Linked DNA regions of Homo sapiens: region 2 is linked to region 1. The links come from fine-mapping of genetic effects on gene expression. Tissue or cell type: stomach. Region 1 holds a variant in brackets; the other region holds the start of a gene. All regions are shown on one strand. Distances are from middle to middle.

The links. PIP is the estimated chance that this variant, and not a neighbour inherited with it, causes the effect.
Region 2: WARS2-AS1 starts here. The variant in region 1 is fine-mapped to the expression of WARS2-AS1 in stomach (GTEx, PIP 0.93).

What each region holds. Positions count from the first base shown.
Region 1 is chr1:119,331,569-119,336,716 of GRCh38, reverse strand. All of the region lies in intron 2 of LINC01780 (long intergenic non-protein coding RNA 1780), which reads right to left. Among named protein-coding and RNA genes, the nearest start is that of LINC01780, 5.9 kb to the right of the region's middle. The variant G/A (reference allele first, on the strand shown) is at 2,055.
Region 2 is chr1:119,137,388-119,142,535 of GRCh38, reverse strand. WARS2-AS1 (WARS2 antisense RNA 1) reads right to left here and starts at 2,140. Exons shown (of 7, transcript NR_125975.1): 1 at 1,743-2,140; 2 at 723-789. It overlaps WARS2 (tryptophanyl tRNA synthetase 2, mitochondrial), which reads left to right and starts at 1,883. Exons shown (of 6, transcript NM_015836.4): 1 at 1,883-1,981. The coding sequence starts at 1,892. RefSeq lists an enhancer at 1,802-2,111.

The sequences.
Region 1 (5,148 bases):
TAAAGTGATTTCCCAGCTAGAAAGAGAATGCTGCATATTTCATAGATGCTCCCAGGGACAAAATCACACACATGTAGTAGTCATTTTCTTTCCTCTGGAATTGAGAAAATATAGAACTTGAACTGGGAAATTCATTGTTCTAATGTTTGAGAGGGTGTGGATAGTAATCTTAAAAAATCAGCCAGTCACAGCTGATGTTGAGAAAGGGTAAACCACTAGTGGAATCAATTGGCTTTAGATGGAGGCAGCGAAACCTCCAATCAAATAGCTCACTAAATCCTAGTCTTGGCTCTGGCTCAAATCCCCTCACTAGAGTCTTAAAGTATGATGGGAAGCTTCTGGCGTTATACCTGGCACGGCACCACCCTGGGGTCCAGCTGGCCTTATAAAACTCTTTCACTCATACACAAGGCTGCTCCTGTTCACCATGCAGGGAAGGCACCCACTGTGTGCTCTCCTGGTGGATGCAGGTGGTAGCCAAGGTGGAAAGTCACGTTGACCCTCCAAAGCATAGGGCTTGGTACCTTGTGGGCACTCGGAGATCTCTGTCCTGGAAATGAATGAATGAAGGTACTTGTTCCATGCAGCTGAAAGTTTGGGCAGCTTTCCTTACCCTCTCCTGGAAGAAGACACAAGTCTGTGCACACTAAAGGGACATTTGGTGGGCACCCAAAGCTTGAGAGAGGTTGGCAGTAACAAAACTAACACCTATGTAATACCTGCTGAACGTGCCAGGCATAATTAGAAGCATTTTTAAGTTTTTAACGTGTTTAATCTTCATAATAATCCCATGAGGTATGCTCTGTGATTATTATTCCCATTTTACAGATAAAGTCAAGGCCCAAAGGAGTTCTGTAACTTGCCTAATGGTTAGGATGCTGGATGATCTGAATGCAGGCAGCCTGACTTTGGATCTCACCACCTTAACCACTCAATTATAGTGTACTTCAATGACCTATGACTCCTACCACAGGAGCAGACTTTGGGAGAAGATACCACTTGGTGTACTGTGCCACCGTCCCAGCATGAGACCAGAGCAGTTCTCAGTTTCCTGACACACTTGGGTAGGTTGGGCCTGGTGTTTCTGTTTCCTAATGGGGACACTGAGATGGAGAGCAGTTGTGTGTCTCACTCATAGTCACCAGGTTAACTGCGGCAGATCAGGAATCGGGTCTCCTGGTCCCTGCCATGCCGCTTGGGGCTCTGCAGCTCAGCCATTTGTGCCAGAGACACTCACCTAGCATACTTCTCAGCCCCGTCCCCACCAGACTCCTTTGCCCACGGCCAAAAATAGTGGCCATGCCTGACCAATCAACTGATAAGACACCTGCTTTGTGTGAAGGACTTTGGGCACTGGAATAAAAAGCCAGAAATGGAAGACTTTGAGGAACATTTAATCCAACCTCTCCTTTTGTGTCTGGAATTGGTGGGTTCTTGGTCTCACTGACTTCAAGAATGAAGCAGGGGACCCTCGCGCTGAGTGTTACAGTTCTTAAAGGCAGCGTGTCCAGAATTTGTTCCTTCTGATGTTCGGATGTGTTCGGAGTTTCTTCCTTGTGGTGGGTTCCTGGTCTCGCTGACTCAGGAGTGAAGCTGCATACCTTTGCTGTGACTGCTACAGCTCTTTTTTTTTTTTTTTTTTGAGACGGAGTTTCGCTCTGTCGCCCAGGCTGAAGTGCAGTGGCGCGATCTCGACTCACTGCAAGCTCCGCCTCCCGGGTTCACGCCATTCTCCTGCCTCAGCCTCCCGTGTAGCTGGGACTACAGGCGTGCGCCACCATGCCCAGCTAATTTTTTTTGTATTTTTAGTAGAGACGGGGTTTCACCGTGTTAGCCAGGATGGTCTCGATCTCCTGACCTCGTGATCCGCCCGTCTCGGCCTCCCAAAGTGCTGGGATTACAGGCGTGAGCCACCGTGCCCGGCCGTGACTGCTACAGCTCTTAAGGCGGCGCGTCTGGAATTGTTTGTTCCTCCCGGTGGGTTCGTGGTCTCGCTGGCTTCAGGAGTGAAGCTGCAGACCTTCCCAGTGAGTGTTACAGCTCATAAAGGTAGT[G/A]TAGACCCAATGAGTGAACAGCAGCAACATTTTTTGCAAAGAGCCAAAGAACAAAACTTCCACACTGCGGCAGGTGAGGCGAGAGGGTTGTGCCTGCTGGCTGGGGCAGCCTGCTTTTATTCTCTTATCTGGCCCCACCCACATCCTGCTGATTGGTCCATTTTACAGAGAGCCGATTGGTCTGTTTTACAGAGAGCTGAATGGTCCGTTTTGACAGGGTGCTGATTGGTGCGTTTACAATCCCTGAGCTAGACACAAAGGTTCTCCTAGTCCCCATCAGAGTAGCCAGATACAGAGTGTCCATTGGTGCATTCACAAACCCTGAGCTAGACACAGGGTGCTGATTGGTGTGTTTACAAACCTTGAGCTAGATACAGAGTGCCGACTGGTGTATTTACAATCCCTTAGCTAGACACAAAAGTTCTCCACATCCCCACTAGATTAGCTAGATACAGAGTGTCTACACCAAGGTTCTCCAAGTCCCCACCAGACTCAGGAGCCCAGCTGGCTTCACCCAGTGGATCCGGTACCGGTGCCGCAGGTGGAGCTGCCTGCCAGTCCCGTGCCATGCGCCCGCACTCCTCAGCCCTTGGGTGGTTGAGGGACTGGGAGCGGTGGAGCAGGGGGCGGTGCTCCTCGGGGAGGCTCCAGCCACACAGGAGCCCACGGCGGGAGGAGGCTCAGGCATGGTGGGCTGCAGGTCCCGAGCCCTGCCCCGCGGGGAGGCAGCTAAGGCCCGGCGAGAAATTGAGCACAGCAGCTGCTGGCCCAGGAGCTAAGCCCCTCACTGCCCGGGGTTCGCAGGCCTGCCGGCCGCTCAGAGTGCGCAGGCACTGAGCCCATGCCCACCCAGAACTCGCGCTGGCCGGCAAGCCCCATGAGCAGCCCTGGTTCCTGCCCGCGCTTCTCCCTCCACACCTCCCGGCAAGCTGAGGGAGCTGGCTCCAGCCTTGGCCAGCCCAGAAAGGGGCTCCCACAGTGCAGCCGTGGGCCGAAGGGCTCCTCAAGGGCGGCCAGAGTAGGCAGGCACCAAGGCCGAGAGCGAGGGCTGCGAGGGCTGCCAGCACGCTGTCACCTCCCAATTTCACAAATGGAGAAATTGAGGCAGCTCATCCAAGGTCCCAAACTACTTGGTAGCAGTCTGGAGCAGGGCCCAGGTCTCCCAACAAGACATGGCATATGCGTTTGCTACTCTGCCGTGCTGTGCTGTGCAGTGGCAATGGGAGATACCAAGAGCCTCCCTGTACTGTCTGTAGAGCCTCTCCTTTCAGCCTCTCACTGCCTCACTCCATGGGTCTGGCTGCAGCCTACTCACTGCCCCCGTGGCTGTCAGTGCACGGGGTAAGCCCTGACATGTGGAGGGAAATAGGCACCCAGACTAAGGGATTCTCCCCAGGCCTGTATATGAAAAGGATCCTCAGCAAGCCATCAGTTCCCACTGCCCTCGTCCCACTCCTCACCAGAAACTTAATTAATCATGTTTGCATCTGGATCCAGACAAGACAATAGCAGGGATGTGTTTTTGGTTAGGAACTGAAGCTGTATTCGCAAAGGAATGTTGATTAGTTAGTGGTCGGTATCATTTTTCATGCCTTTTTAAGTTACAAAAATTTTAATATCAAAGCATTTCTCCCTGCACCGCACGTATCTATTTCTCGTAAGTGCATTATGCTGGCATAATTTTCTTTTCCTTCCTGCAGGCTCTGTTTATGAGATGATCCATCAGGTTGTCTCAGAGTCTCCATCCAGCCCTTCAGCAACCAGAGGCATTCCAGGTGAGCTCTGAGCCCACGGCCCCTCCCCATGTGGAGGGGGAAGGAGAAAGGCAGGCTTAGGCTGGGATATGATACATTGTTGATCAGGGAAACAACAGTCACCCACTGCAGAGATAGCAGGCTCTCCCCTCTCCCCCGCATTTCCTGGGCCCTCATTATAAATGCTGCTGCTCTTTACAACAGGAGTGGGCCCCTGAAGAGAAGAAAAGGAAACGTCCCAAACCTCCTCCAGACCCGTAGATGTTGAGGTCAATCTGAATGCCTCAATTCAGTCTTCAATTCTGCACCAGGAAAATGCCCTCAATATGGGAAAATCTTTGAATGCAGGAAGCATGTCTCAATGTGTACAACATGCCCGTGTGTGCAGAACATGTCAAGTCACAGATGATAAATCATGGCAGAGAAGCAATGTGGGATCTATGTGGCACAGTCAGAAACCTGTCTGCGTGCTCAGCCCTCCAGCTAAACTTCCCTTTAGACAAAAGTGGTGAAGACGTAACAAAAGAGAGTAAGGTGCCTCCTCCTTCTGTTCAGTGACCTTTCCGAAGACAGGCCTGCAGTAACAAACGTGGCTTAGGCACTATGTGTACAGCTTGGACGGGATTGACCAGTGGGAACAAAATAACATGTTCTAAGATGCTCAGATGCAGGCTGACCTTCCCTCCAGCTGAGAAACCATCCTGTGGTCACTGATTTCCTGAATGCACTGGCCTGAGGGGATGGGGAGGGCCTGTTACAGGACAGGATCACCAGGGGGAATTCAGGGGATTCAGTACACATTTGCATCACATTGGTCCCCAAAGCAGTTTGGGTTTGTTGAGGCAGGGTTTGACTTGCTGAGAGCCCAGCCCCAGGTCATTGTTGTTACTCCAGACACTGGGAAATGTGGATTGTGGGGTGAGATACTGAAGCTGGGATTGGCTTGGAGACAGAGAGTACTCTGCACAACTCAACAGCAAAGTCACATTCCCAGAGAGCAACCAATTGATCCAAGAGTTATTTATTCAGAAAATAAACTGCAATTTTGTGCCAGGCACTGTGCTAGAGGTACACCACACTGGGCCCACCTACCTGCAGGCCTCACCCCATGGGGGATGGCCTGACTTGGTCTCATTATTTGTTCCTCTATCCCCCAGGCCTCTTCCTTGGTGCTGGCTAAGGGCTAGGCTGGATGTTTAGTTGTAGCCCTAAGGAAAAATTTTAGTATGTCCACTTTTATACACAGAGGCACAGATGGTAAGCAGTTATGAAAGTTGTCCGAATCAAAATGGAGTAATTTATGTTAAAACCCTGGCAAATGGAGCCAGGGAAGGCCATCA
Region 2 (5,148 bases), 190 kb after region 1:
AATATTATTGGTCATAGGAGTCTGCAGATACGACTAAGAACTACTTCTTGAAGAAATAAAGTAGGTACACCCTTTGACAGCTTTTGGTGCACCATAGTCTTATTGCTAGGTTTTATCTTGCTATCTAGATGACTAAAGATGTCAGAAAGCTAATCTTGCTAATTGCTAGGGTCATGTAATCTCATTAATAAAATATATGTAAAACACTGTACTATAATGCTTTGCTCTATGTATGAGTAAAACATGTAGGGCATTTATTAAACTGCATTTTACAAGGCATAACATATATCCCCCTTCCCCTGGCAAGGTTTGTTTCCAGGGTCTCAGTAATATCACATTCTTTGGGTTCTACAACACCTCTTGGCTCCTTTATTTCCATCATCTGGCTACTTTCACTCCACAAACTCTATCTGATGGTCTCAAGGATTTCCTTGGTTTCAATTACCATCTGTTTGGTAGTTCAAATCTCTTCTGAGCTCCAGACCCATGTATCTATTTAATGGGCATCACATTTTGGAAGTACTACAAGCACCTCAAATTTAACAGCCAAAACCAAACTGATCAGCTTTGTTGAAGACTATAACTTGATTTCCTAGTTTTTTTTTTGCCTTCATCCCTTTCCTGCTCACTTCTAAATTACACCAATTATACTTGAACTTCACCAGTACTTTGTATACCTACAAGATTATCCTATATGGTTTTAATTTACTGTTTTGTCTTACCCTGGTAGATTTCAGCTCCTTTATAGGCATCTCTTATCTCCTACCTCTCCTTGGTAATTTTCAGTAGCTGGATGAATTATAAACAAAACACATAAAGGAATTGTCATGAATTTCTTCCAGTTATATTTTTACTGAAACACTCGTTATCTGTCTGGGAGATTTTTAGGTGAATTAACAGAAGCAGAAAAACTGTATTAAACTTTCTCATAACCCCAAACAAAACAATTTCTTCCATCAGGTATAACCTTCCTGCAGCCTTCCCTAGACTAGGTTGAAACACCACAGTCATAACCACTCCTCCTTAAAACTTGCGGTGCTTGCTTCTTTAACACCTATTAAGTGTACATCATTTATTTATCCGCTACTCTATTAGACTGTACACAACTTGAAGACAAGATATGTCTTTCTCTGTACCTTCAGTGCCCAGCACATTACGGTAGGGTTCAACAAAGTTTACAGGACGAATGAAATAAGGCCACATAAGTCCAGTGCGGTGGCACATGCCTGTAATCCCAGCACTTTAGGAGGCCGAGGCAGATGGCTTGGCTTGAGCTCAGGAGTTTGAGAGAGCCTGGGCAACATGGTGAAACCCTGTCTCCACCAAAATACAAAAATTAGCCGGGCGTGGTGGCGCACCCTTGTGGTCCCAGCTACTCAGGAGGCTGAGGCAGGAGAATAGCTTGAGTCTGGGAGGTGGAGGTTGCAGTGAGCCGAGATCGCGCCATTGCACTCCAGCCTGGGCGAGAGTGAGACCTTGTCTCAAAGAAAAAAAAGGGAAATGAGGCCACACATGTCTAAAAAGACCACTTATATTACCCTCTAAGAGAACTGGGAGTTTCTAAACAAACTTTTTAAAGGTTGCCTTCACATAGCTAAGATCAGAAATGCAGCCTACTTGACTTTCTTCCAGTCTAAAGCGTTGCTACTAATAACCCCCAAGGAAATTCTCCTTCCAGGAAGGCTGAGCAGACAAGGGATCCAGGGAAAAACACTAAAGCCCCACCCCGCTCCTGTCCCCACCTGCTCGGCAAGAACTGCAGTCCGCCCGATAGCGGCTGCGCTGCGCAGCCTGGAGGCCCAAGCCGCGCCCAGCAAGCAGGAGTCGCGAGACTGGGATTGGCTCTCTGAACAGACGTCATTCCAAACAAGACGGCTCCGCCCTTCTCAAGATGGCGCTGCACTCAATGCGGAAAGCGCGTGAGCGCTGGAGCTTCATCCGGGCACTTCATAAGGGATCCGCAGCTGCTCCCGCTCTCCAGGTAACCAAAGACGGCCCTTCCCTCCGCGGCTTCCCATCCCGCGAGGTTCTTCTCATCCCACTGCCCTCTATTTATTTCTCTCCTCCCGCTTCTTAGGGAAAGTACATGCCTTCCCTCGCCTAAGGTCTACTCGTCTATGACTGTCGGCCTGCTCAGAGCGTAGTGACGTTGCAAGGATACGTGATGACGTAAAGGTTTCTTGGTGGAAAAAGCGCGCCGCTTTCTGACCTCTTGCCGCCACCTCCAGTTCTGGGAGCGGAGCGCCGCCGCTGTTGCCGGGCAACGCGGTGAGCCTACCCCGCGTGTGATGTTTTCAGAGACGGGTTGTTTTAGAGACTGCTCTTCTTGTGGTCTTATTACTGTTTTTACCCTCCTTACCCTAACAACACGCTAAGGGGCTATCGGAGAGAGTAGAGAAGTTTTGTTAGGCATTGGGCAGCTTGGGTCGGGGCAGCAGGTTGGCAGTGTGGTACTTGAGCAAGTGTCAGTGCATCTTCCATTCTGGTTGCTCCTGGTGGCTCCACAGCACTGCTCTATCTAGCAGGCTGTGAAAGAGTGACCGCAAGCTGCTACAGAGTTTGTCCTGTCCTGCGCTTGACAACACTGCTGTTACCATTAATCTCGTCGTACGGAGACCATGTCGCGGCCTGGTCTTATTGGGAATTGTCTTAAATATTTGGAATTTTACCCTCATAGCAAAAAAGTCAGGGGGAGGGGATACCCTTTCAGTTATTCAGGATTTTACCAAACGTCTTCCAAGTACAGTCTCAGTGGCAAGCACTTTGACATACTTTATCTACGGGAGATATATTCTGGGAACTAGAGAGAAAGGAGAGAATGTGATTTTATTAGGTAATTTCCCGGCATCATTTGCATATGTATTGCCATAATGAGTAGGTGTGAGGATGTCGCACCTATTGTAACTGTTGTGTTGAAAACAGCGCTAGACAGGAAGGTAGCCTAGAGGTCAAGGGTTTGGTCTGCCACTTGACAGCTGTGTGACAAGTCACAATCTCTCTGGGACTTTTCTTCTTTTTTTGCTCATATTGAGTGGAGGAAGAGAGCTGGACTGATTGACACGTTAATGTTCTTTCAACCTCTGGAAAATCTATAGTTCCATGATTATGAAGCCAAAACAAAGCCAATGAGAGTAATTATGAAAACCAAAATTTAAGTTCAACTTATTTTTCTAGTCATGTCATAAATTTTTTGAACTTCCGTTTTTTATTAATGTGAGCCTCACAAAATTCTTATAAGCTAATATATTAATATATACCGGAAAGCTGCTTGTCAGCAAACAACTATTCAAATGTCACCTTAAATTTCAGCAGCAATGTTAGGTAAGACAATTCAAAATTAGATAAATTTATCAAAAATTCCTCTCCTTGAAATTTGAGGGTTTGATTCTGCAGAACTAGAATGAGATGATTATTTATAATTTATAGCACATTAACACCTATGCTATCAAAGTAGCTAAGCCGTAGACCCAAACTTCCCCTTATTCCAAACTAAAGAATTGAAGATGTCTTGAGAATAGAGAATCAAAGAGAGAGAGAAAAAAAAGACAAACTGCAGCCTGCTAATGACTGCCCAGGGAAGTTTAAGACACTAAGTCATTATAAATGCTAAAGAAAAAATTTCTTAAACCTCTACTATTGTTTCAGTGGCATTTATGAATAGGGCTATTAAAGTTAATTATTAATCTAGATTGTTTCAAGATGTAGAATTTCCAGTACCGATGAATGTTTCTAAACCTTTAATTTAGCTTTGAGTAGAATAAGTATTAAATGTGAGAGTATTTTTTTAAAGTATAAATCTACATATAATTTCAGTCATTGAAAATGATGGTTTGAAAGATTAATGTGGTTTTTTGAAAGACTGAGAAAAGATACAAAATTGTGTTCATAGTGTTATTACGATGTTATGTTTATATATAAGTGTTTATATAAACGTATACATAGAAAAAAAGCCTGGAAGGGAACAAACATTTTTAACTTTTTTATTTTGCTTTGGCCTTCCTAAATAGTGGGTTAAAAGTTATTTGTTTCCTTTTATAGCATTACATATTTTTCACATGTCTAAATTGAAGACACACACTTTTTAATAACCAGAAAAACGTTTTGAAATCATAAATCTTTATACAGATCTTTAGTCATTAATATCATTTGTGATATTTTAGGATTCTGAGGAAGATACTTGTCCCACAATGCTGTTATTAAAATGGCCTTAGAAAAGGACTACTAAAAATTTATGGCCACTTTTCCTGTATGTATCTTCTTTTTCTCTTGAAAAGCTTCCTTTGAAGTCAAAGGGATTTTGTGAACAGATGCAGAAATATGTGAAAGAGGCATTGGATTCTTAAACCAGATGCATTAGACATTTTTATGATATCTCATAACCTTTGTAGAAAAAAATTATTTTGCAAGAGTATAGTATAATGGGAAAAAATGTATATTTATCATATGAATGGTTCCATCAAAAACCAAGAAATAGCCAAGTTAGTTTTTATTAGCCTTGGCTGTGCACTTACTCCCTTAGGTGTAAAGCAAAAGTGAATGAGCCATAACAGTGCTATGTTAGAAACTCTAACTAATAAAGTGTTGTGATTCCTAAGTTGTTTTAATGGTTTTTAGTGTTTTCTTTTTTTAAAACAAAATCTTGGGTAAAAATGTTGGCATAGGGCATCTTTGCTTATCTCAGAGGATGCAGATGTAAACTCAAGTTGAAAATAAAACAGGGAGAAACAGGAATAACAGCACATCACTCCATACTCATTATGGGATGTCTACAATTTATATGAAAACGGTTTATTTTGCCAGGTGTTGCCTGACAGAAAACTGTTGAAATCTGACAAGATGAGCGTAGTCATAAAGTCAGAGGAGTTAAGATCTGACATGTTCTGTTTAAATGTTGATGGTATTAGGTAAATTTAAGCCTGTCATCATTGGCCAAACACAGAATCCATACTTCTTTAAGCACTAAGTCATGATTGTATTGTGCAAAGAGTGAAATATTGATGGTTAGTAGATTTTTGCAAAAGTATTTGTTATTCAGTTGAAGTATGATAAAGTGTCCACATTTTATTGCAGTTGAACATGTTTCATTATTAGCGGTTCCTAGTCTGGGTTTGGCCAGTATTCACATAATGTTCTTGCTGTTAACTATCG